Regions from separate parts of the Homo sapiens genome. Here all the other regions are linked to region 2. The links come from fine-mapping of genetic effects on gene expression. A gene starts in region 2. Each other region holds a variant in brackets. All regions are shown on one strand. Distances are between the middles of the regions.

Region 1 (5,099 bases), 25 kb after region 2:
TAGAGGTTGCAGTGAGCTGAGATCACACCACTGCACTCCAGCCTGGGCCGACACACTGAAACTCTGTCTCAAAAAAAAAAAAAAAAAAAAAAAAAGCGGAGCGAGCGAGAGAGATAGGCTCTCACTGTATTGCCCAGGCTGGAGTGCAGTGGCACAACCAGGACTCACTGCAGTCTCGACCCCCGGGGCTCATGTGATCTTCCCACCTCAGCCTCCCAAGTAGCTGGGATTACAGGCCCACACCACCTCAACCAGCTAGTTTAAATTTTTTTTTTTTATAGAGACAGGGTCTTGCTATGTTGCCCAGGCTGGTCACAAACTCCTGGGTTCAAGCAATTCTCCTGCCTCAGGCTCCCAAAGTGCTGGGATTATAGGCAGCCACCGCACCAGGAGAGGCTGGATCTTATAGACATCCTGGCCCCTGTGTGCAAGTCCACTGGGTCCAGAAGTGAGGAGGGGGCTGCACAGATGTGTGGAGACCCTGGCCCAGGAGGGCCTCTCTGGGAGAACGTGCAATAGGGCAAAGCGCTGGCAGCTGGGACAGAAAGCTGCAGGGCTGGGACCTCCGGCCTCCATCCAAAGGTAGGGCTCAGGGCTGTGTGCTCCAGGCTGCTCTCCCGGGCACCCCACCCCTAAGGGCGGGCCCTAGTACCAGTCTCTGCCTGCTCCGGCTCTCCCCGCCCCTCCTTTCCATCTCTTCTCCATGGTGGGCCTCCCTCTTTCTTCATGGCAGCCCTACGTCTGTGACCCTCGACGACAGTCCCTGTCCATCTGTACCTGGCCCTCTGTCGGGACTTCCTCTGTGTCTCTGAAGACCCCCGTCTCTCCCTGCCTGCTCCGTGCCCTCCTCCTGCTGGGTCCGTGTCCCGCCACACGCCCCCAGGTCTGGGACGTTTTCGTGGCTGACGGGCGGGGGGGGGGGGGGGCGCGTCCCCGGCGGGTCCCTATCGGTCCCTGTCGGTCCGTCCGCCCCGCGCCGCCCCCGCTGGGCACTGGGCATGCCCCAGGCGTTTCTATATAAAGCGGCGCCGCTTGGGCCGGGCGCTGTGCCACTGCCACCGCCGCCGCCGCTGCATCCCGCCCGGTCCGAGTCCGCCCGCCACGCCCGCCGAGCCGCTGCCGCCGCCAGGTACCCCAGCTCCGGCCCCGCCCCGGGGAGAGCCAGGGAGGGGGGCGGCCGGGGCAGGAGTCGCGGGGACGAGGACCCCGGGCGCCCGCTCCCCGCGGCGGGACCCTCGACGCTACGCCCCCCACCCCCGGGACCCGGTGCCCCCAACTCCCCCCCGCGCTGGAGGGGCAGAGCCAAGCCCGGACCCCAGGGCAGGAAGGACCTGTGAGCCGCACTGGGGCAGGAGCCACTCGGTCTGGGCAGCAGAAATCCCTCCCTACCTTCGGGGTGGGGGTGGGGCTGCCTTGGCCTCTCTCTGCAGGGACAGGTGTCGGCCACCTCTCCACTCCCAAAGTCTAGGGGCTGGAAGGCCAGGCAGGGACTTGGCTGCCCTGACTCCTTCGTCTCTCTGTCCCTCTGTCTCTGCCATCAGTCTCTCAGCCACTCCACCCACGAGATGGTGAGTCTTCTGTGGTCCCTCCCCCACAAGGCCCAAGTCCCTGGGCAGAGAGTGGGCCCAGAGGACAGCAGGCAGCACCTAGGACCTAAGCCTGGGAGTTGCCCCCTGCAGACAGCTTAGACCCACGACCAGCTCCCCCACCCCCACCCTGCGGCTGCATCCTGGGAGGTGGGCACTCTTAGTGCCCTGTGACATTCATTCATTCCATGGCCCCTCAGGGAGCTCACCTTCTAGGAGACGGCACAGAGGCTCTGGCCCTGGCAAACTGGGATTCGAGCCCAGGCATGAGGCCCAGTCCTCTGCCGTCTGGGCCACAGCACACCATCTCCCAACAACCAAGAGATTCTCTTCGTCCCAGCCTCATCAGCCCCCAGGGGATGGGAGAGGGCAGGCACCAGGCAACAAGGTCCAAAGAGACCTCACGACTTGCTCAAGGTGGCCGAGCCTGTCCCCTGGAGGACAGACTCAGCTGCCAGGCCTGTCCAGGCCTGGGGACTGCAAAGAACAAGAATTCCATTCACACGAAGCCTCCCAGCAGCCCCATATTGGGGGGGCGCCAGCCTCAGAGAGGGGAGGGACGTTAGGTTTCATCCAAAGAAAGCATTTCCGTGACTCAAAATATCTGCAGGGGGGATACTGTCTAGCCTCCTAATGTTTAGCCCAGGGCTGGGCACACAGTAGGGCTTCAAGACCTACGTGGGGATGACAGTGGAATCACATTTAGGTGTCAGCACACTCCATGCCGGGTCATGAGACAGAAATAAGCCACCTCAGAGTGATGGCTGGGTTCGTTCATTCATCTACTCTTCAGTCAACAAACACTTACTGAGAAGTGGCTGTGTGCCAGGCACGCTTTAGGTGCTGGGGTTGCCTCCATGAACAAAACAAGCAGAAAACTCTGCTGCTGTGAAGCAAGCTAAGGCGGAGCCCAGCATGGCAGGGGCGGGAGGGGCTGGCTGGCAAGACATTGCTTCCTGCCCTCCCCCCAGGGGCACCACACAGAACAGTTTACAAAGCACTCCCACGGTTGCGTTCCCATTAACAAGCCTTC[G/A]CCCCCAACACAAGCCTTTCCTCTCCTAGTCCCCGGGACGGTGTCAGCCCTGAACATAGCCCAGGCTGGGAGAGTGGGGGGCTTACACCCTTGGGTGACTTAATGTGCCCACTGGCCCACCCTGCCCAAGACCTACCACTTCTGCCCTCTCAGCTCTCCCTGGATCCATCGGGTCCCGAGTGGGATTGCCCACTGGGCTCCAAGGACCTGGAGGAAGAGGGCCCCTGGGGAGGGGGCTCTGGCCTGCCGCCCACAGGCTGCTTCCCTGGCTCCTGGCGCCAGGACGTGGGCCTGGACTGCAAGGGATCCCCCGAGGGGGCCGAGGCCCGGGCTTGGACTGTCTACTACTACAGCCTCCTGCAGAGCTGTCTGCAGCAAGCTGGCCTTCCGGAGACTCAGGACCGCGGCCAGGTGCCCCGCACAGGTGCCCAAGGGCTCCCTGGAGGGAGGCACCTCTGGGGGCAGGGAGGGGCCCTCAGCCCAGTCTGCTTGCTCATCCCTGTCAAGGTCGGCCCCTTCCCCTAGGCTCTGGTTCCATCTGAAGGCAGGGAAGGCACAGCCAGTTGGCCTAGGGTAGGCGGACATTGTTTGCAAGGGCATCTGGCACCAGTGAGGTCAAGGATTGGGCTCCCTGCCCTCACCCCCTCCCCAAAAAGACCCAGCCCTGGGATTGGGAAACCACGTTGTGTGGCACCGAAGCTTCTAGAGAAAGGTCTTGGGAGCTGTGGTGGAGGCAGCTCAGCAGCTGAGACCCCCCAGACTCCTCCCCTTCTGCCCCTCCACGCCTGTTACATATATCAGACTTTGTGTGGACAGAGGGTTCACAGGCAGAATACCTGAGAATCACAGACTTGGTCCCATTGTACAAACTTGGAAACTGAGGCTTGGAGGAACACTGACTCCTCCAAGGTTACACAGAAAGTCAGAGCTCGGGCTAGAACTCAGGTCTCCAGTCACCTAGCCCACAGCACCTCTGGAACAGCTGCAGAAAGGGGAAACCAGCTTCACGGGGCAGGACTGGCGGGCACCTCCATTCCCTGCCTGTCCCCTGTCTCATCCGATTCCTGGGAAAACTCTGGGGGCTCAGGGTGGGGCCGTGGGTGTGGAGGTGGTGGAAGGTGGGCAGAGAGACAGCAAGGGCGCCCCTGGTGAGCTGGGCCATGTTCTCTTTCCCGAGGCTGTCCTGGGGCGGAGGTGACCTTGTGCGTTCTGGGCTCCCCCAGCACCTTTCTGCCTGTGCTGCTGGAGGGTGGGGTCCAGAGCCCGGGTGAGTGTATGCTCAAGTTTCCCCATCCCCTTCTACAGAAAGGGCAGCCCTGCCCTGGCCCAGCCACATCCCAAAATACCCGCCAACCCTGGCAACTGCCTGCATTCCACCGGAGCAGCTGCCATGCTGAATGGGGATGGGTTCTGGGATCAGCTGCTTCCACTCCGCTACCCGGGGGCCCGGGCATAGGGCATCAAGCCTTCCCTGGCCAGCCACTTGCCTTCTCTGCCCACAGGAAACATGCTCCTTTGCCTGTCCCCTGCTTGGCTGATGAAGGTGCCAGCACCCGGGCAGCCGGGTGAGGCAGCCCTGCTAGTCTCCAAGGCTGTGAGCTTCCACCCTGGGGGCCTGACATTCCTGGATGACTTTGTCCCCCCGCGCCGTGCCACCTACTTTTTGGCAGGCCTGGGCCTGGGGCCTGGCCGGGGCCGAGAGGCAGCAGAACTCGCCCGTGACCTGACCTGCCCCACAGGAGCTTCGGCTGAGCTGGCCCGGCTGCTGGAGGACCGGCTGCTGACAAGGCAGTTGCTGGCCCAGCAGGGTGGTGTGGCTGTGCCAGCAACCCTGGCTTTCACCTACAAGCCGCCGGGGCTGCTGCGGGGAGGGGATGCCAGCCTAGGGCTACGGCTGGTGGAGCTGAGTGGCAAAGAGGGCCAGGAGACGCTGGTGAAAGAGGAAGTGGAGGCTTTTCTGCGCTCCGAGGCCCTGGGTGATATCCTGCAGGTAACAGACTCTCGCCCACCCTGAGGTCTGTACAGATGCCAGCAGGATGGGACCCAGGCACGGTTACCAAGTCTGGCTGGAAAGGTGTCCCTACCTCTTAGCCCTGCCGCTGCCCTGCCCCATCTCTGGGGCAATCCCCTGCCCTTTTGCCTCAGTTTACTCACCGGCTCCTGTGGCGGAAGTGCCCCACCCTGCAGTACCTGGGGTGGTGTCCAGGAGGCCCCTTTCCCCTCCTTGCTGCAGGTAGCTGTGAAGCTCAGTGGCTGGCGCTGGCGGGGGCGGCAGGCATGGCGTCTGCACCCGCGGGCAGAGCTGGGTGCAGTGGTGGACACAGTGCTGGCGCTGCTGGAGAAGCTGGAGGAGGAGGAGAGTGTCCTGGTGGAGGCTGTGTACCCACCTGCCCAGCTGCCCTGCTCAGGTGAGAGCCACCTGGGCTGACCAGGGATGGGAGTTTGGTGTGGCCTTCTGGCCACTCTGTGCTGGCCTTAGA
Region 2 (5,099 bases):
AGTGTGCAAACACGGGAGAGGCATGACACAATGGACATTTTAGGAGGGTCACTTTGCTGCTGTATGGAGAGTGGCCTGGAGGGGGCAGGGTGGAGGCAGGAGACCACTGAGAGCTGTTACAGTCATCCAGGTGAGAGGATGGTGGCCTAGGCCTTGGAGATGGAAGAGGAGGGCAAAGTTGCCACCTGTTAAGTTGCCACCTGTTTGGGAAGCAGAGTGGTCAGGACTTAACTGAAAGACTGTGTAGGGGTGAGGGCGAGCATGAGGTCAAGGATGACTCCAGCATACTGAGCCGGATGCCCAGGGACAGGGGCACTATTTCCATGGATCCCCCGGGAAGGGGAAGGGAAGAGTAACCTCCTCCCCCAAGGCTCCACGGAAGGGGCAAGGGCTGGTGACGAGGGGAGCAGAAGGGAAGGAGAGGGAGAAACAAAGTGTATGCATGTATCCAAATGTGTACAATTATTATGTATCAATTCAACTCATTTGAAAGTGGGTCTGGAGAGCAAGGGTGGCAGAGATAAATATATCTTCTGCACTACCACAGGACCTGAGGGGCAAGGCACGGGCAGGCCCTGCAGGAATACAGGGATGCCCTGGGCCCTTCCAAGAACTACCAGAGCCTTGGTACTGTGGGGAGAGTAGGGGTCAGTGAGTTTCTCCAGGACTCCCTTACATTTTACACACGTGGACCCGGAAGCCCAGGGGAAGGGGAATACCTTCCAGCTGATGCATCCCCACCTGGCACACAGTCTGGTTTTTTTTTTTGAGATGGAGTCTCACTCTGTTGCCAGGCTAGAGTGCAGTGGCGCGATCTCGGCTCACTGCAACCTCCGCCTCCGGGTTCAAGCAATTCTCCTGCCTCAGCCTCCAGAGTAGCTGGGACTACAGGCGCGTGACAACATGCCCGGCTACTTTTTGTACTTTTAGTAGAGACGGGGTTTCACCATGTTGGCCAGAATGGTCTGGATCTCTTGACCTCGTGATCCGCCCGCCTCGGCCTCCCAAAGTGGTAGGATTACAGGCGTAAGCCACCGTACCCGGCCAGTCTGGGGTCTTTTAAAAATACAGACCCGGGGCTGGGCGCGGTGGCCCATGCCTGTAATCCCAGCACTTTGGGAGACCGAGGCGGGCGGATCACTTGAGGTCAGGAGTTCGAGACCAGCCTGGCCAACATGGTGAAACCCGTCTCTACTAAAAGTACAAAAATTAGCCAGGCGTTGTGGCAGGCGCCTGTAATCCCAGCTACTTGGGAGGCTGAAGCAGGAGAATCGCTTGAACCTGGGAGGCGTGATCGTGCCACTGTACTCCAGCCTGGGCGACAGAGCGAGGCTCTATCTCAAAACAAACAAACAAAAAAACCCCACACACACACACAAAAAACAAAAAACAGGCCGGTGCAGTAGCTCACTCCACTTTGAGAGGCCAAGGCGGAAAGACAGCTTGAACCCCACAGTTGAGACCGGCCTGGGCAACATGGCAAGACTCCGTCTCTACCCAAAAAAAAAAAAAAAAAAAAAGGGCCGGGCGTGGTGGGTGTGCCTGTGGTCCCAGATACTCAGGAGACTGAGATGGGAGGATCCCTTGAGCCCAGGAGTTCCAGGCGGCAGTGAGCCGTGTTCGCGCCACTGCACTCCAGCCTGGGTGACAGAGCAAGAATATGTCTCAAAAAACAAACAAACAAAAAAAGGCACATAACCACGATCTACCCTCGTAAAACGTTTCCAGAGCGTCCCAGCGGTGCCCCTCATCATCTGGCGGCCCCTACGCCTCTCTGAGACTCACAGACCTACTCCCCTCTCCAGGGGGCGGAGCCCACACCGCTGAGCATTTACTCTTGTTCTTCCCTCTGCCAGGGGCACCGTTCTACCCCTTTCTGCCTGGAGAAACTGCCGTTTTTCCTTAAAGGATCCTCGAAGCCGGAAGGAGCAGCCACCTCCCACTCCCGGCTGCTGCAAGCAAGCTGCTTTGACTTCTTTCTAGAGTTGGGGATTGCTGCTGGAGTCCGAGTCTCAGGCCCAGAGTGGGTGCGATGGTCTTGCTTGCACCCTGTATCCCCCGGCAGACGCCCGGGAACTCTACTAAGTGGGTGACCCCAGAGAGCTCGCCCCCACACTCCGACTCCGAGTCCAGCACTCGGTCCACTGCACAGGGACCTCGCGCCCCACAGCTGCGTCCTCTCTGACCTTCGCAATCCGGTGCGCGGCCCGCGGAACGCCCCGATCTCCAGGGGCACGGAAGGCCGAGGCGTGCCGGGGGAGCCAGGAGCAGCTGGCTGGCGGGCGCCGCGGGCCTCCCCGGTCACGTGACACCCCGGACAACGTGCGCCGTCACGTGACGGCAGAGCCTGTGAGCGTTTTTCTCACGTGACGGAGGCGCCTGCACGTGGACCAATGGGGAGGCGGGGGCGGGGCCGGCAGGGGCGGTGCGCGGGAAGGGACCCCGGACCCGGAGGTCGCGGAGAGCTGGGCAGTGTTGGCCGCTGGCGGAGCGCTGGGGCAGCATGAAGTGCCTGGTCACGGGCGGCAACGTGAAGGGTGAGTGCAGGTCGGCCTGGCAGCGGCGGTGCAGCAGCCGCGGAGCCGCCAGCCTAACCCCCTTCCGCTCTTCTCCCCGCAGTGCTCGGCAAGGCCGTCCACTCCCTGTCCCGCATCGGGGACGAGCTCTACCTGGAACCCTTGGAGGACGGGGTGAGGGGCTAGGGTGTGGGGGGCGGGTGGGACTCCAGCCGGGAGCGGGTAACCCGGACTAGAGTCTCGCCCCCACTAGGCGGGATGACCGCTGGCAGATTTGTCGGCAAAGTTTCAGTTTCTTAGTCTGGCGGCTGTCATCTTCCCAGGCCGGTGTGTGAATTGAGGAAAGCTGTCCTGCGAGCTCCCAGGGGGTGACGTGCACTTAGAGAAACTCGGGGAAGGCCTGGGTGTGCGACCCCTCCTCTGCGGCAGCAGCGCCGGGGCCGACTCTGAAGGCTTCCATGGGGAAAGGAGGGTTTTTCAGCAGGTGGTGGCGGAGCGGGAGGACGATAGGGCAAGTGTGTGAGCAGAAGCAGCCAGAGGGCTGGGTCTGTGGCTGCCCCCTGACCACGTCCCTCTCCCTGCTCTTCGTGGCCCAGCTCTCCCTCCGGACGGTGAACTCCTCCCGCTCTGCCTATGCCTGCTTTCTCTTTGCCCCGCTCTTCTTCCAGCAATACCAGGCAGCCACCCCTGGTCAGGACCTGCTGCGCTGTAAGATCCTGATGAAGGTGAGGCCCTTCCCTCAGCAGTGGCACTACTCCACCCCAGGAATCTCCACCAGCTGTGCCTCTGCCCTGGGGTACTCAGTAGATGCTAAGTGGGGAGAGAGACACGTGCAAGCCCAATCCATGCAAAACACAGGGAGGGCCATGGTAAAAGCATCACAGCGGGGACCTGAGAGGGTGGTGACGCTCAAGTTCGTCAAGAAAGGTAAGCACGTCTTTTGGCCGGGCGCGGTGGCTCACGCCTGTAATCCCAGCACTTTGGGAGGCCGAGGCAGGCGGATCACGAGGTCAGGAGTTCGAGACCAGCCTGGCCAACATGGCGAAACCCCGTCTCTACTAAAAATACAAAAATTAGCTGGGCGTGGTGGCACGCGCCTGTAATCCCAGCTACTCGGGAGGCTGAGGCAGGAGAATTGCTTGAATCCGGGAGGTGGAGGTTGCAGTGAGCTGAGATCGCACCACTGCACTCCAGCCTGGGTGACAGAGCGAGACTCCATCTCAAAAAAAAAAAAAAAAAAGGTAAGCAGGTCTTTCAAGGCATTCCAAGCATAAGGAAGAGCATGAATGAGGCCTAGAAGGATGCCAGTGCCCGAGGTGACGTGGGAGCCCTTTTCCCAGAGTTACATGCTGGGCCCATGATGGGTGTGGGCCTGCATGGGACAGGAGAGCTTGTTGCAGAGATGTGATGCTAGGCTGAGGTGTCTTATCCCATGCAGTCTTTCCTGTCTGTCTTCCGCTCACTGGCGATGCTGGAGAAGACGGTGGAAAAATGCTGCATCTCCCTGAATGGCCGGAGCAGCCGCCTGGTGGTCCAGCTGCATTGCAAGTTCGGTGAGTGGGCAGCCGGCCAGCCAAGGGGTGCCTCAGCAGGGAGGTCGGCGAGGCCCACTGAGACCCTATCGCCCATCCAGGGGTGCGGAAGACTCACAACCTGTCCTTCCAGGACTGTGAGTCCCTGCAGGCCGTCTTCGACCCAGCCTCGTGCCCCCACATGCTCCGCGCCCCAGCACGGTGAGCACACCCCTGCCCTCAGCTCAGCCCCGGGTCTCTCTCTTCCTTCTTTGGGGCCCCAAGGGGTTGATTTTAGAAGGTACCTCTTTCATTTTCCCTACAGAGTTTCTGTGAACCTCAAAGACATCCCATGGCCCGCTATGTGCTCAGGTCCTTACCTGGCTCTTTAAAGGCAGACGGTGGCATGGAGGAGGGGCAGGCGCCTCCTTGCTCCATTCTCCTTACTGTTAGGAGCCTGCATTCTCCATCCCAAAGGTCTGACTTGACTTTCTGGCTGCTCAAACCCATTCCAACTCCTCCTCTAGGGAGCACATTTCTGGCCTGCCACCAAATCTCTTGTCTGGCTTGAGTAACCTTGAAGGTCTGCCCATAACCTGTGGCTCAGAGGCTCAGACCCCTTCTCCGGCCTGGGCATCCTTCCAGAGGTGTTCCCCATTCAACGGCAGCCTCTTTTCCTGACTGCCCAGGATCGAGGAGTCCCCAAGGCCAGGGCAGGAGGCTGGAGGGAGGCTGAATAATCAGCTATGGGGTGGAGCTGTTCTGGGCAGTCCGAGCACTGGGGGCTGTCTGGGGCCAGGGAAATGGGGACTCCAGTTGAAGCAAACGTCCCTGGCGAGGACCAGCTCAGAGAGGAGTGGGCTCTCCCCCTGCTCCATGCTGGTCACTGCTTGCATTCAAGTGGCCCAAGGTCCTGCTCATTTCTCAGGGTGACTGAAGATCCCTTTGGGTCCTGACATCTGTTTCCCCAGGTTCTTTTGAGCCAGCACTGCTCAGAGCTCTTTTGGGTAGTGAGAGACGGGGGCCAATTCCTTGGTCTGCATTTAGGGTGGTGTCTTTTTTTTTTTTTTTT
Region 3 (5,099 bases), 120 kb after region 2:
AACCCGGGAGGCAGAGGTTGCAGTCAGCTGAGATCATGCCATTGCACTCCAGCCCGGGTGACAAAGTGAGACGCCATCTCAAAAAAAAAAAAATAGGTGAATGGTTAAACAAACTGACATATCCATACAATGGAATATTATTGGGCAATGAAGGAAATCGCCTATCTAGCCATGAAAAGACATCAATAAATCTTAAATGCATTTTGCTAAGTGAAAGAAGCCAGTCTGAAAAAGCCACATACTGTATGATTCCAATTCTGTGACATTCTGGAAAAGGGAAAACTATACAGAAATTGATCTGTGATTGCTGGGGCCTGGGGTAGAGGGAGTGAAACTGAATAGGTGAGGCATAGGGGAGTGAAACTCTTCTGTATGAGGAAACTTTTTGTTTTTGTTTTTGTTTTTTTTTGAGACGGAGTCTCACTCTGTCACCCAGGCAGGAGTGCAGTGGCACAATCTCAGCTCACTGCAACTTCTGCCACTCGGGTTCAAGCGATTCTCCTGCCTCCGCCTCCCCAGTAGCTGGAATTACAACTGCACGCCACCATGCCCAGCTAATTTTTGTATTTTTAATAGAGATAGGGTTTCACCATGTTGGCCAGGCTGGTCTCGAACTCCTGACCTCAGGTGATTCACCCACCTTGGTCTTCCGAAGTGCTGGGATTACAGGCGTGAGCCAACACTCCTGACCAACTTTCTGTGTTTTTATTTTTTATTTTTTATTCAGGGTCTTGCTCTTTGCCCAGGCTGGAGTGCGGTAGTGTGATCATGGCTTACTGCTGCATCCAACTCCTGGGCTCATGCCATCCTCCTTCCTTGGCCTCCCAAAGTAGATTACAGGCGTGAGCCACGGTTCCCGGCTGAGTAAACTTTAATGTATGCAAATGTAAAAAAATTCATCTTGGAGGTCAGCGGATCCCAGGATGGAATGCAGAATGCAACCAAAGAAACTAGCTATATTACAAATGTGTGCAACAACCTCACTGTAGGGGCTGAAGGAATAAGGTGCTGACCTAGAAATGAGGGAGTCTGTAAGACTAAAGGCAAAAGGAACTGCACATAAGCACCGCACTCGTTGAGAAAGTTGTACCCCACAGGAATATGGGTTAACAGTTCCAAAATCACTCCACATGTAGCTGGAACTGAACAATTAAGTAAACAGAGGATGGATGATGGGGGTCACTGTTGGAATGAGAAGTTACAGATAAGCAAGTGGGGTGGCTAGAATGATCCATGTGGTAATGGGCTGGAGTTGGAAGCATCAGGATGAACTCATGTACAGCTTAATAGAGATTCAGTTGCTTACATACAGGAATATTTATGAATGTCTGTATACACAGAATAGCATGCACACACACGTATCTCCTCATGTTATCAGCAGAGAAGACCTGGAAACAATTTCCCCTCCCTGCTACACCCACTAGCAACAAGCACCCAGATCTTGGTTTCTTTTCCTTTTCTTTTCTTTTTTCTTTCTTTTTTTTTTTTTTGAGATGAAGTCTCTCTCTGTCACCCAGGCTGGAATGCAGTGGTGGGATTTCAGCTTACTGCAACCTCTGCCCCCCGGGTTCAAGCCATTCTCCTGCTCTGGGGTGGGGCATGGTGCCTCCTGCATAGCTGGGATTATAGGCACCCGCCACCACGCCGGGATTCTTTTTGTATTTTTAGTAGAGGTGGGATTTCACCATGTTGGTCAGGCTGGTCTTGAGCTCCTGACCTCAAATGATTTGCCTGCCTTGGCCTCCCAAAGTCCTGGGATTACAGGTGTGAGCCACTGTGCCCGGCCCCTGCCCCCACTTTTTTGTTTTTTTAGAGAGACAGGGCTTTGCTCTGTTGCCCAGGCTGCAGTGTGGTGAACTGGGTGCTATCCTAGTTCACTGAAGCCTTGAACACCCAGGGACAAGTGATCTTCCCACTTCAGCCTTCCAAGTAGCTGGAACTACAGGCGCACACTACTACACCTGGCTAATTTTTAAAATTTTTTTGTAGAGATGGGGTCTCACTATGTTGCCCAGGCTGGTCTTGAACTCCTGGACTCAAGTGATCCTCCCACCTTGGCGTCTCAAAGTATAGGAATTACAGGCATTAGGCACCATGCCCCGCCCCAGATCTTGGTGTCTAATACCATTCTCCAATAAAATGAACCAGGGCTCCTCGGAGAAATGACTGATAGTAGGACTGGGGCAGGAAATATACAAGATGATCCTGGAGCAGCTTGTAGTGCCAAAGCATAAAAAGTGCTAAAAATAAACAAACATACACAAAGATGGGGACACAAAGCCAATTGAAAGACTCCCTATGGATCGATCTACCTATCTATCTATCTACCTATCTATCTATCTATCTATCAATCATCAATCATCTACCAAGATATCCTATTGTTCTGTTTCTCTGGAGAACCCTGACTGATATATAGGGGAATCTGGGCGTGGGGTATTGGGAAACCCTCTGTGCTATCTTCACAGTCATTCTGTAAACCTATAGGTCTTTTGTTTGTTTGTTTGTTTGTTTATTTTGAGATGGAGTCTCACTCTGTTGCCCAGGCGGGAGTTCAGTGACACAGTCTTGGCTCACTGACACAATCTTGGCTCACTGAAACCTCTGTGTCCCGAGTTCAAGCAATTCTCCTGTCTCAGTCTCCCGAGTAGCTGAGATTACAGGAGCCTGTCACCACGCCTGGCTAATGTTTGTATTTTTGGTGGAGTCGGGGTTTCACCATATTGGCCAGGCTGATCTCGAAATCCTGACTTCAGG[C/T]GATTCACCCGCCTCGGCCTCCCAAAGTGCTGGGATTACAGCCATGAGCCACTGCACCCGGCCTAAATCAGAAGATCTTATAGCTTGGGGCTGCTCTGGCAAGAATCGGAGGAGTTGGGCAGCAGGTGCCCCCTGTAGCGGGGGCAGGGGTTCTGGACTTGCCATAGTTTCAACCCTGCCCACTGTTCCTTCCCCAGCCTAGTGCAGCCTCGATCTCACAGGCTTAAGGGATCCCCTGCTCCAGTTGCTATCTGTTGGGAAGTGTGTGTGAGATTTGGGGGAGCTGGGAGCACTTCTTTTGCCAGCAGACACACTGCCCTGATTCAGACCACCCCACAGCCACTCCCAGTTCTCTAGCCGCAGAGCCTGCCAGGCTGAGGCCTGGGGAGGTGGTGGGAGGCTGACCCTGAGTAGGGTTCTGATTTCCCTTTTCCTCATGGCCATCACTACCCCTCAGCCCCTGCAGCAGGGACAGGCATCTTCTCAGGCAGCAATACCATCTGTACCAGCCGTGAGGGTGGTGGAAGGAAGGGTGGGAGTGTGGATCCTGGCTCCCAGAGAAGCCACTGAGGCTGGGGCAACTTATCCACATCCCTAGTCCTGCCAGATTGGCAGAGGTGATTACCTAATTGAGGATTAAGGATTAATTGAGATCTGCCAGGAGAGTGGTGCTGAGGCCACTGCAGCCAGCTCCAGCACCTCAGCATCCAGTCTCCAGAATGCGCAGCGCACATCCCCAGGCCGCCTGCCTGCTTTGTCCCAGGGCCATCTTGTTGGCAGGCGCCATGTGAGGACCAGGCACAGGCACTGGGCACTCTCACCCCTTCATGATGAGGAAGGTCAGGGGTCGTTCGCTCCCAGCAGGCAGAAGCTGCAGATGAGGCTTGCGGCATAGCTAGAAGAGGCCAAGATCTGGCCTGGGCCGGTCCTGACTCCGAGGCACCCTCCCTAGTTGGCACTGTAGTTTCAGAGTCCCTGGGCCTGGGTGCAAGTCCCACCACCCTTCATCCTGATTGTGTGTGGCTTTATGCCACTCCCGTGTTCTCCTGGAACCTCTGTGCAGGCAAAGGCCCTGGATTAACCTGGGGGTAATGGAAAGTCATGGCGAGGTCCTGAACAGGGGTGTGACAAAATGCAAGTGGCATTTTAGGAAGAATAGCCTAGCCGCGTGTAGGGATAGAGGGCAGTGAGGCCACGTAGTCTCTAGCAGGTCACTTTGACTTGGTGCTATTGTTTATGTTATTATTATTTTTAGTTAAAAAAGTGTTTTTTAGAGACAGGGTTTTGTTCTGTTGCCCAGGCTAGAGTGCAGTGGTGCAATCATATAGTTCACTGCAGCCTTGACCTCCTGGGTTCCCGTGATCCTCCCACCTCAGCCTCCCAAGTAGCTGGGACTACAGGTATGCACCACCACACCTGGCTAATTTTTGCTTTATTTTTGTAGAGATAGGGTCTCGCTATGTTGCCCAGGCTGGTCTCAAATTCCTGGCCTCAAAGTGCTGGGGTTGCATGCATGAGCCACTGCACCTGGCCCGCGTGCTGTGGCTCTGATGTTCGTGTCCCCTCCAAAATGCATGTTGAAACTCAATCCCCAGTGCAGCAACGGTAAGGGGTGGGGCCTTTAGAAGACGATCGGGCCATGAGGGCTCTGCCCTTATGGATGGGATTAGTGCCTTATAAAAGGGCTGGGGGTGGCGGTGGGGCGGGGGGAGTAGCCAGGCCCTCATGTGCTTCCTGCCTTTCTGCTACGTGAGGCACCCTCTGGAGGAAGCAGCTCAAGGCACCATCTTGGAAGCAGAGACCTGGCCCTCTCCAGACACCCAACTGCCTGCACCTTGACCCTGGACTTCCCAGCCTCCATAACTGTGAGCAATAAATTCATACTGTTTATAAAATACCAGTCTAAGGTATTTTGTTATAGCAGCAGGAAAGGATGAGGGCACTCAGCCTGTCAATTTCTTCAATCTGGAAAATGGGGCCCTGAAGACTGGGATATGCTTTGAGTGTCTGGGGTCCTCCAGGAGGAAGATGCTGAGATGGAGTTAGGGAGGGAGGAAGGTAAAGGGGGAGGAAGCAGGACTGGGCAGGCGAGCCTCTGACTCCACGCAGATCTGTCTGCCTTGGCCGCCCCAAAGGGGAGCTCAGAGCAAAGACTGCCCATTAGAGGAGCCTTGCATTAGGCAGAAATGTCCAGGTCCTGGTTCCCCATGCTGTGCTCAGTTAGTGGCTGGGGGCTCCCTGGATGAGTGAGGTGTCAGCCCAAAAGCTGAGGTGTCTCCTGAAGGGGCCAGTGGCTGAGCCCTTTTGCTAACTCACCCACTTCTCTAAGTTGAACTGCGTGTACT
Region 4 (5,099 bases), 54 kb after region 2:
CCCCACCGCAGCTCCTCCGGAAGAAGGGGGCGGGGCGGGGCAGGGCCGACGGCGGCCGCCGCAGAGGCGCCGCAGGTGCGGGTGCAGCCTTACAGCGGACCCGAGGCCCCTTCGCGTTCTTGCTCCTCATAATGGCATCCGCAGGAGTCTCCAGGATTGGGTGAGGCCCCGCCTTCCCGGCCCCCGACGGAACGCACACCTCCAAGGGGCCCCATTACCGCCCCCAACAAATAAATGTAGAATCTACACGGACAGTGGATATGTTCACGTGACTCTTTTTAAGTTATCAAAGTTAATGCTCTTTTTTTTTTTTTTTTTTTTTTTTTGAGACGGAGTTTTTGTCACCCAGGCTGGAGTGCAGTGGCGCGATCTCGGCCCACTGCAACCTCCGCCCTCCCAGGTTCAAGAAATTCACCCCAGTAGCTGGGACTACAGGCTTATACTACCACGCCCGGCTAATTTTTTGTATGTTTAGTAGAGACGGGGTTTCACCATGTTAGCCAGGATGGTCTCGATTTCCCGACCTCGTGATCCGCCCGCCTCGGCCTCCCAAAGTGCTGGGATTACAGGCGTGAGACACCATGCCCGGCCTAAATTTCATGCTCTTGGTTAACAATGTAAAGAAAACAACAGCAGGTGTTGGGGTGGTTTTTTTTTTTTTTTTTGAGGCAAGGTCTGTCACTACCGGGCTAGAATGTAGTGCCATGATCATGGCTCACTACAGGCTCGACCTCCTAGGCTCAAGGGATCCTCCTGCCTCAGCCTCCCAAGTAGCTGGGACTACAGACACACACCACCACGCCTGGCTAATTTTTCTTTTACTTTTTGTAGAGATGGGGTCTCTTGCTCTGTCGCCCAGGCTGGTGTGTTTTTTGTTTTGTTTTGAGATGGAGTCTCGCTCTGTCTCCCAGCCTATAGTGCAATGGCGCGATCTCGGCTCACTGCAACTTCTGCCTCCCGTGTTCAAGCAATTCTCCTGCCTCAGCCTCCCAATTCGCTGGGATTACAGGTGCCTGCTACCATACCCTGCTATTTTTTTTGTATTTTTAGTAGAGATAGGGTTTCACCATGTTGGCCAGGCTGCTCTTGAACTCCCGGGCTCAAGCAATCCTCCTGCCTTAGCCTCCCAGAGTGCTGGGATTACAGTTGTGAGCCACCGTGCCCATCCAGAAAATAGCAGTGTTTATGGAGCGAGTGGAAGACCCAGGAGTCCCATTTTTCAGGGTAAACACCTGTGCATTCTGCTGAGCTTTCTTATTACAATTTGAAAGGGGGCCATGGCCAGTGAGTCCCTTGCACCTTGCCTTCTTTTCTCCACCATCTCCCTCGAAGGCCTGGAGATCCATTCACAGGCCTCTCTCTTTCTCTAGCCAGCGCCTGTGACAAGGAGCCCAGACTGGCCTCTCCAGACCCACCCCATCCCGTTCCACAGGTGGAATGTACCCCCGTTCCCTTAGGCCAGCGGCTCTGGGGCACCGGCTACTTCCCTTATTCTTTCCTTGAGCATCCACTGCCCTGGCTGACCGATGGCACCCTCCCTTTCCCAGAAAGAGATGGATGGAGGACGAAGCGGGGGAAGAGCAGAGGTCACAGGAGCCTTGTCTCTGGCTAAAAGAGGCCCCCACTGTGTGTCTGAGGGTGACCTCGGGCTTGTCTCCCATCTCATTCCCATTGCCACACCCCATTGAGGAAACAGGCACAGAGAGGTGCGGTGCCTGCCTGAGGTCATCCAGCCGGATGCAATCCCCATCGGCTTGGGTCCAAAGCCCTTGCTTTTCCTAGTGCTCTATAAACCCTGGGGCTAGAAGGATCATCTAGATCCCACCCACCTTCCTTCCCACCCCGAGGCCTGGGCACATCCTGTTCTCTCCATCTGGAAGCTCTTTCCTCAGATCCCAAAAAGGCTCCTTTCCCCACTCGATTCAGGTCTCTGGTCAGACATCACCTCCTCCTAGGGCTCTCCTGGACCATTCCTCACCCAGCCACTCTTTGGTCTTACTTGTCCTGACTGCATTGTTCTTTTTTTGGGAGACAGGGTCTTGCTCAGTTGCCCAGGCTGGAGTGCAGTGGCACGGTCCTAGCTCACTACCGCCTCACACTCTGGGGCTCAGTCCTCCCGCCTCAGCCTCCCAAGTAGCTGGGACTACAG[G/T]CACGTACCACCATGCCTAGCTAATTTTTATTTTTGTAGAGATGGAGGTCTCCTATGTTGTCCAGGCTGGTTCCAAACTCCTGGCCTCAAAAAATCCTCCTGCCTCAGCCTCCCAAAACTCTGGGATTACAGGTGTGAGCCACCACCCGGCCTGTGTTCTCCAGCGCCGCCTGATGTTGCATCAGGTGCTTATTGGTGTATTTGGTTTGTGTCGGCCTCCACCAGGATGTCAGCAAATTGAGGGGAAGGACTTTGCCTATCTTCCTACTGTATTCCCAGCACCCTGAACAAGATCCAACACTCAGTATGGGATCAAGTAATGTATGAGGAATGAATGAATGAGCAGCAGCCCTGAATGTAGAATTGAACAATACTCATAATCACAATTCTCAGGATCAATGTCTGGCACCTATGAAGGAGAGGGAAGGAAGGGCATCTCTCACCGGAGAAGGAGTGAGTCTTCCAGACGGCAGCAGGAGACTGGTCCCCTGGGATGTGGTAGGCAGGAGGTGTGTGGCTGGGCAATGTCTTGGGGCTGAGCCCACCTTCATGCCCATTTTCTCTAACACAAAACCCTCCTCCATGGACCACTGAGAGAACTCTTTTTTTTTTTTTTTTGGAGACAGAGTCTTGCTCTGTTGTACAGGCTGGAGTGCAGTGACGCGATCTCGGCTTACTGCAACGGAAACCACCTTTGCAAAACTATGACTGAGACAGTGAAAGAGATCTAACTTCACCAACCATCTTGCTTCTAATCTCTCTCTTTTTTTTTTTTTTTTTTTGAGACAGAGTCTCGCTCTGTCGCCCAGGCTGGAGTGCAGTGGTGCGATCTCGGCTCACTGCAAGCTCCGCCTGCTGGGTTCACGCCATTCTCCTGCCTCAGCCTCCCGAGTATTTGGGAATACAGGCGCCCACCACCTCACCTGGCTAATTTTTTTTGTATTTTTAATAGAGACAGGGTTTCACTGTGTTAGCCAGGATGGTCTCAATCTCCTGATCTTGTGATCAGCCCATCTCGGCCTCCCAAAGTGCTGGGATTACAGGCATGAGCCACCTCATCTGGCCCTTGCTTCTAATCTCTAAACCGTCCTTGTTCATTTCTGGGCATAGGCTGAACTAACTTTGGGAGAAACTTAGTTTATAAACAAAGATGGTAACAGCCCTTTCCCAAAGCAGACTTCCCTGTTGCCTGGGGACTAGATTGCCTTTGTAGGACTAACATTAGCCACAAGATTAGAAATTATGGTTTAGGGCCGGGCATGGTGGCTCACGCCTGTAATCCCAGCACTTTGGGAGGCCGAGGCGGGCGGACCACCTGAGGTCGGGAGTTCGAGATCACCCTGGCCAACATGGTGAAACACCGTCTCTACTAAAAAATGCAAAATTAGCTGGGTGTGGTAGCACATGCCTGTAATCCCAGCTACTCGGGAGGCTGAGGTAGGAGAATCGCTTGAACCCGGGAGGCGGAGGTTGTGGTGAGCTGAGATCACGCCATTGCATTCCAGCCTGGGGCAACAAGAGCAAAACTCTGTCTCAAAAAAACAAAACAAACAAACAAACAAAAAAGAAATTATGGTTTAGGAGTTATGCAGCTGGAGGCTATAAGATTCGGACCCTCCCTAAACTGCTCCTAAGGTCAGCGCTTGAGATATTTGCAGACCCTGCCCTTGATGGATCAGCTGGCACCACCAGATCAATCAACTGGCTCATCTGATCTTGTGGCCCCCACCCAGGAACTGACTCAGTGCAAGATGACAGCTTTGATTCCCTCTGATTTCATCCTTGACCAATCAGCACCGCTGGCTCACTGGCTTCCCACCACCCACCAAGTTATCCTTAAAAACTCAGCTCCCTGAGAATGCTCAGGGAGTCTGATTTGAGTAAGAATAAAACTGCAGTCTCCTGCACAGCCGGCTCTGCGTGAATTGGCTCTGTCTAGGCAGCAGGCAAGGCGAACCCCTCGGGGGTTTACACAACCCGCGCTTCCTGGGTTCAAGCAATTCTCCTGCCTCAGCCTCCCGAGTAGCTGGGATTACAGGCATGCGCCACCACACCCGGCAAATTTTTTGTATTTGTATAGATGAGGTTTCACCATGTTGGCCAGGCTGGCCTTGAACTCCTGACCTCAGTTGATCTGCCTGCCTTGGCTTCCTAAAGTGCTGGGATCACAGGCGTGAGCCACCGTGCCTGGCCTGAGAACTCCTCTTTATTCCGCAAAACCCTTCAGGCATTCTACCCCATCCTGTCCCACAGGTGGAGTCTGCCCCGCCTCCCTCAGGCTGGCGGCTTTGGGGTACCAGCTACCTCACTTATTCCTTTCTTGAGCATCCGCTGCTCTGGCTGACCAAGGGTGATGGTCTGCTGCTCTTTCTTCTGGACAGAAATCACGCATTATGGGTGGGATTCCCTTTGGGGTCCTTGGACGTGGGACTGGCCCACTCCCCAAGAGGTAGGGTTTGGAGTGTGGACCAGAGCTGAAAGCAAGTGGCTGATGCTGAGGTTTTATTTCCCAATCTGCCTGCCATGCTGAAAAGGCCCTGGGAGCCCTGCCCAGAAAAAGGGAGAAGGGCACTGCGGAGTGCCCTAATGGGGACCGAAGTCCAGGCCCTGCGCTCAGAGTGTGGACTGCAGTGGGATGGGGAGGGTGAGAACTTCCCTTGTGGAACAGGAGGCAGTGCCATGGTGGGGAGGCCTGGGGGGCAGGCGATCTGCCACTCAGGCGCTGGCCTGTGGCTCAGTATTGGTCCCAGGGCTGAGTGAGACCGGGGGGTGCCCACTGCTGTCATCAAATTAATGGCTAACAATCACGAACACTTCATAGGGATTCACGCTCCTGCAAGATGGGTACCATTATTATGATCCTCATTTTACAGACGAGGAAACTGAGTCCCAAAGAGGCTAAGAGCTTTGTGGAAGGTCACACAGCCTGTGAGTGGTGGAGCCAGGATTC
Region 5 (5,099 bases), 290 kb before region 2:
TGTAGCTCTGGATGTGGTGCCTACCACGGGCCGTTGGCAGTCCCGATTCTGTGTCTCTGACCAGGGGTTGCTCAGGCCACTGACTCTGCACACACATGGGGCAGTGAGTGTGCCAGGGAGCCAACAGCCTCTGGAAGCAGCCCACAACCAATGGCAGGTGGCAGCGGGTGGATAAGGAAAATGTGGAGTCCCCTTCTACACTGTCTCCCAGAGGTGTCCAGCCAGGCAGCACCAGCAGCCACTGCAGTGACTTGCTCGACGATGCACCCTTCGTTGGTTCTCTTCCCTCCCTTGTCTTACTTTCCACTCCTCTGTCAGTATTTCCTAGGACCATTTCCCAAATAAACTTCTTGCACTTGAATCCTTGCCTCAAGGTTTGCTTCTGGGTGAATTCGAAGTAAGGCACAGTGGCTCACACCTGTAATCCCAGCACTTTGGGAGGCTGAGGAGGATTGATCACCTGAGGTCATGAGTTCGAGACCAGCCTGGCCAACATGGCGAAACCTCGTGTCTACTGAAAATACAAACATTAGGCGGGCATGGTGGTGGGTGCCTGTAATCCCACCTACTTGGGAGGCTGAGACAGGGAGAATTGCTTGAACCTGGGAGTCAGAGGTTGCAGTGAGCAGAGATCACACCACTGCACTCCAGCCTGGGTGACAGAGTGAGACTGTCTCCAAAAAACAAAAACAAAACAAACAAAAAACCTACAAAAAAACAAAGACACACTCACTTGCTTACATTAAGAACAGGGTCTGGGCAGGGCGCAGGGGCTCATGCCTGTAATCCCAGCCTTTTGGAGTGTGTGTCTATGTGTTTATCTGTCAGGGTGAAGGTGGCTCTCAGAATTGATTGGGGGCAGCTGGGCGTGGTGGCTCATGCCTGTAATCTCAGCACTTTGGGAGGTCGAAGTGGGTGGATCACCTGAGATCAGGAGTTTGAGACCAGCCCGGCTGACATGGTGAAACCCTGTCTCTACTAAAAATACAAAAAATTTGCCAGGTATGGTGGCAGACGCCTGTAATCCCAGCTACTTGGGAGGCTGAGGCAGGAGAATCACTTGAACCCAGGAGGCAGAGGTTGAAGTGAGCCGAGGTCACGCCACTGCACTCCAGCCTGGGCAACAAGAGCAAAACGGGGCCGGGCACAGTGGCTCACGTCTGTAATCCCAGCACTTTGGGAGGCCAAGGCGGGTGGATCATGAGGTCAGGAAATCGAGACCATCCTGGCTAACACGGTGAAACCCCATCTCTACTAAAAATGCAAAAAATTAGCCGGGCCTGGTGGCGGGCGCCTGTAGTCCCAGCTACTTGGGAGGCTGAGGCAAGAGAATCGCTTGAACCCGGGAGTGGAGCTTGCAGTGAGCTGAGATCGCACCACTGCACTCTAGCCTGGGCAACAGAGCCAGACTCCGTCTCAAAAAAAAAAAAAAAATAGAGCAAAACGTCATCTCAATAACAAAAAAAAAAAAGGAAGAAGAAGAATTGATTGGGGGCTGGAGGACCAGGTTTGGGATGGGCAGGAAGCCAGATGGGAATGATGTCCATCTTTCTCCACTTCCTCAGGCCACCTGCTTGGGAGTCAGCAACCTAAAAAAGGAGGTCTGCTGGGTCAAACCGAATTTGACCCGGCTGCACCCGGTCAGGAGAGGGAAGATGTCTCTATTCTCCCCAGTACCACCCATGGGGCATCTCCAAGGGAGACTGGGTACCTGTAGGAACAACCTCACTGAATGGAGTTGGATAGGAACCACCAAGAAATGCAAATGTACCTCGGCCTTTATTATTCTTCTCCCAACCATAAGGCAAAGCTTAGACTACAAGTTTGCCACCACCCTCCACACCCCATGTCCTCTGCCACACTTCACACTGCTCCTTTTCTCTGACCCACTTGGATGCCTCTTCCCATTCTTCTGTCACTGTCTCACTCTAGTCGCTATCACCACTGCCCATTACCACCTCCTCCCTCTGGGTATCTGGCCTCCAGCAACTAACTGCCTGCCATGTGCCCAGTGCTGGCTGCCAAGCTGTTTCTCCCATCTTTAGTGGCTGTCAGTGATCAACCTTGTCCCATCCTGGGCTCTAAACTTGCCACCAGCTCTTTCTCCCCGGGGTATCCTCTACCTCTTCTTCCTCCAACTCCACCCCTACCAGCTGGGCCTTCCTGGCAGTGACTCAATGTCTTCCTCCTCCAATAATTTCACTCCCATTTGAGTCTTTGCTCAGATGCAAATACTTTATGTGCCTGCAATGTACTCCTCCAATAGTTACTTTTACAAATTCCACCTCTTTCCTGGCAAACCCTCTTGCCTGTCTCCCCGCCCCCAACATCGGCCACTACACCAGGGGCCCCTCTCCTGTTACCCTTCGCAAGCATTTAGTGAATGAGGAAAACTATTTTCGGGGCCTGATTCCAGACATGGTGGAGGAAACAGGCACACAGCAAGCCCATTCTGTAGGAAGCTTACTCCACTGGAGAGAGAACCAGACACACTCACAGAAGTGAGGCCAGGCGTGGTGGCTCACGCCTATAATCCCAGCACTTTGGGAGGCCAAGGTGGGCGGATCACCTGAGGTCAGGAGATTGAGACCAGCCTGACCAACATGGTGAAACCCCGTCTCTACTAAAAATACAAAAT[T/A]AGCCAGGTGTGGTGGCGCAGGCCTGTAATCCCAGCTACTCAGGAGGCTGAGGCAAGAAAATTGCTTGAACCCGGGAGGTGGAGGTTGCAGTGAGCTGAGATCCTGTCATTGCACTCTAGCTTGGGCGACAGAGCGAGACTCTGTCTCAGAAAAAAATCAAACGCAAGCGAGCATGCAGTAATTGCCAAGCTGGGTGAATGGATTTTCAGGGCTGTGGGAATTCACAGAGTGCAGCAGGGAAGGCCTGTGCATGTGTTTGGAGGCAGAGGAGGCGGCAGGGAGGAGAGAGTGTATCCAATGCCTGTTTGAAGGGGAGGACAGCATAGACCTCATTTCACACAGGAGGGTGCAGGGGAATCTCCAACAGAGAAGTCACTGGCCAGGTGGTGGGGAAAGTTCAGGGCCGTAGCAGCCACAGGGACAAACCCGCAGAGAAGACATCTGAAGTTCTGAGAATAAATGAAAGCCTCAAGAGAGAGAAGAGCAGAGGGTTGAGGACTAGGCCTTGCAGGAAGCCCAAAGGCAGGGGTAGGGGAGAGGGGCAGAGGGTGAGCCTGCAGGAGGGAGAAACTCTTGTTTGTTAGCCTGGGCCACTGTGGCCTGTTTAGGACTCTACGCTCTCCTTCCTGTGTAGGGCACCTGTGCGCAGTGCCTGGACCTGCCTTGGTTCTCACTGACCCTCTGGCATAACTGGTGGTCACAGGAAGTTGGTTTCCTGTGAGCTTTCATGATGCTTCCCGAATCCACCCACTTCTCTCTCCACTTCTGTGGGGTAGAAGACTGTAGACAGAAAGTAGTAAGTTTAAAAAAGGAAAGAAAAAAAGAAAAAAAGAAGGCCAGGCATGCTGGTTCATGCCTGTAATCCCAGCACTTTGTTTTGTTTTGAGAGAGTCTCACTCTGTCACCCAGGCTGGAGTGCAGTGGCGTGATCTCAGCCCACTGCAACCTCCACCTCCCTGGTTCAACCTATTCTCCTGCCTCAGCCTCCAAAGTAGCTGGGACTACAGGCACGCACCACCACTGCTGGCTAATCTTTTGCATTTTTAGATACAGACCAGGTTTTGCCATGTTGGCCAGGCTGGTCTTGAACTCCTGACCTCAGGTGACCCACCTGCCTCAGCCTCCCAAAGTGCTGGGATTACAGGCATGAGCCACCACACCCGGTCATGCCTGTAATCCCAGCACTTTGGGAGGCTGAGGTGGGAGGATCACTTCAGCCCGGGAGTTTGAGGCTGCAGTGAGCCATGATCACGCCTCTGCATTTCAGCCTGGTCAACAGAGCGAGACCCTATCTCAAAAAAATATATATGTCATAGTAAGATCTGGCTTCTCTCAGAGAGAAAGGGGTCACCTTATCCACCCCTGCCTCAGTCCCTTTGTGCTGCTATAACAAAATAGCTGAGACTAGATTATTTATTTATTTTTTTTTTTGAGAGGGAGTCTCGCTCTGTCACCCAGGCTCGAGTGCAGTGGTGCGATCTCGGCTCACTGCAAGCTCTGTCTCCCAGGTTCATGCCATTCTCCTGCCTCAGTCTCCCGAGTAGCTGGGACTACAGGTGCCCACCACCATGCTCGGCTAATTTTTTGTATTTTTAGTACAGACGGGGTTTCACCATGTTAGCCAGGATGGTCTCGATCTCCTGACCTTGTGATCCACCCACCTCGGCCTCCCAAAGTGCTGGGATTACAGGCATGAGCCACCGTGCCCGGCAAGACTAAATAATTTATAAAGAATAGAAATTTATAGCCAGGAACAGTGGCACGTGCCTGTAGTCCCAGTACTCAGGAGGCTGAGGTGGGAAGATCCCTTGAGCCTAGGAGTTTGAGACTAGTCTGGGTAACATAGTGAACTCTCATAGTTCTGGAGGCTGAGAAGTCCAAGATCAAGGCACTGGCATCTGGTAAGGGCCTTCAGACTGCATTGTCAGATGGCAGAAGAGCAGAAGACAGTGAACCCGCTCTCTCTCTTTTTTTTTTTTAAGACGGAATTTCGCTATGTCACCCATGTTGGAATGCAATGGTGTGATCTCAGCTCACTGCAACCTCCCCCTCCCGGGTTCAAGCGATTCTCCTGCCTCAGCCTCCCAAGTAGCTGGGATTACAGGCACCCACCACCACGCCCGGCTAATTTTTGTAGTTTTTATTAGAGACGGGGTTTCTCCATGTTGGCCAGGCTGATCTTGAACTGCTGACCTCAAGTGATCCACCCACCTCAGCCTCCCAAAGTGCTAGGATTACAGGCGTGAGCCACTGGACCCAGCCCCCACTCTCTTTTATAGCAACATTAATCCACTCCTGAGGGCCCGAGCCCTCATGACTTAAACACCTCCCGTTAGGCCCCACCTCCAAAACTGTCGCACTGAGGATTGTTTCCAACACATAAACTGTGAGGAACACATTCAGACCATAGCAACTCCCAAGATTATTCCAGGGGTTTTCAAGCCTAAACTCTCTCAATCT

Which allele goes with the higher level. Positions count from the first base shown, and alleles are read on the strand shown. Sizes are in standard deviations (SD) of each study's normalised expression. Not every link is listed here.
In carriers of allele A in region 5, the expression in minor salivary gland of the gene that starts at base 2,445 in region 2 tends to be higher than with T alone (moderate effect, 0.65 SD a copy in GTEx).

The links. PIP is the estimated chance that this variant, and not a neighbour inherited with it, causes the effect.
Region 1: its variant is fine-mapped to the expression of RAD9A in cerebral cortex (GTEx, PIP 0.98). The same link has a PIP of 0.9 or more in blood mononuclear cells and esophagus muscle.
Region 3: its variant is fine-mapped to the expression of RAD9A in transverse colon (GTEx, PIP 0.98).
Region 4: its variant is fine-mapped to the expression of RAD9A in whole blood (TOPMed, PIP above 0.99).
Region 5: its variant is fine-mapped to the expression of RAD9A in minor salivary gland (GTEx, PIP 0.96).

Annotation. Positions count from the first base shown.
Region 1 is chr11:67,414,635-67,419,733 of GRCh38, forward strand. CARNS1 (carnosine synthase 1) reads left to right here and starts at 1,044. Exons shown (of 10, transcript NM_001166222.2): 1 at 1,044-1,129; 2 at 1,542-1,568; 3 at 2,773-3,043; 4 at 3,797-3,886; 5 at 4,122-4,609; 6 at 4,853-5,027. The coding sequence starts at 1,566. RefSeq lists an enhancer at 1,782-2,617. The variant G/A (reference allele first, on the strand shown) is at 2,620.
Region 2 is chr11:67,389,542-67,394,640 of GRCh38, forward strand. RAD9A (RAD9 checkpoint clamp component A) reads left to right here and starts at 2,445. Exons shown (of 11, transcript NM_004584.3): 1 at 2,445-2,537; 2 at 2,620-2,690; 3 at 3,113-3,241; 4 at 3,955-4,069; 5 at 4,150-4,249. The coding sequence starts at 2,504. LOC100130987 (a long non-coding RNA gene) reads left to right here. Exons shown (of 4, transcript NR_024469.1): 4 at 1,857-2,146. RefSeq lists enhancers at 1,612-2,527, 2,562-3,066 and a silencer at 2,292-2,661.
Region 3 is chr11:67,513,429-67,518,527 of GRCh38, forward strand. No RefSeq gene overlaps it. Among named protein-coding and RNA genes, the nearest start is that of CABP2, 7.5 kb to the right of the region's middle. The variant C/T (reference allele first, on the strand shown) is at 2,755.
Region 4 is chr11:67,443,660-67,448,758 of GRCh38, forward strand. It overlaps a transcript of CORO1B not described here. Among named protein-coding and RNA genes, the nearest start is that of CORO1B, 2.7 kb to the left of the region's middle. RefSeq lists enhancers at 1-552, 213-312, 2,523-2,602 and a silencer at 1-82. The variant G/T (reference allele first, on the strand shown) is at 2,150.
Region 5 is chr11:67,097,046-67,102,144 of GRCh38, forward strand. No RefSeq gene overlaps it. Among named protein-coding and RNA genes, the nearest start is that of KDM2A, 20 kb to the right of the region's middle. RefSeq lists enhancers at 2,846-2,955, 3,149-3,649, 3,366-3,485. The variant T/A (reference allele first, on the strand shown) is at 2,639.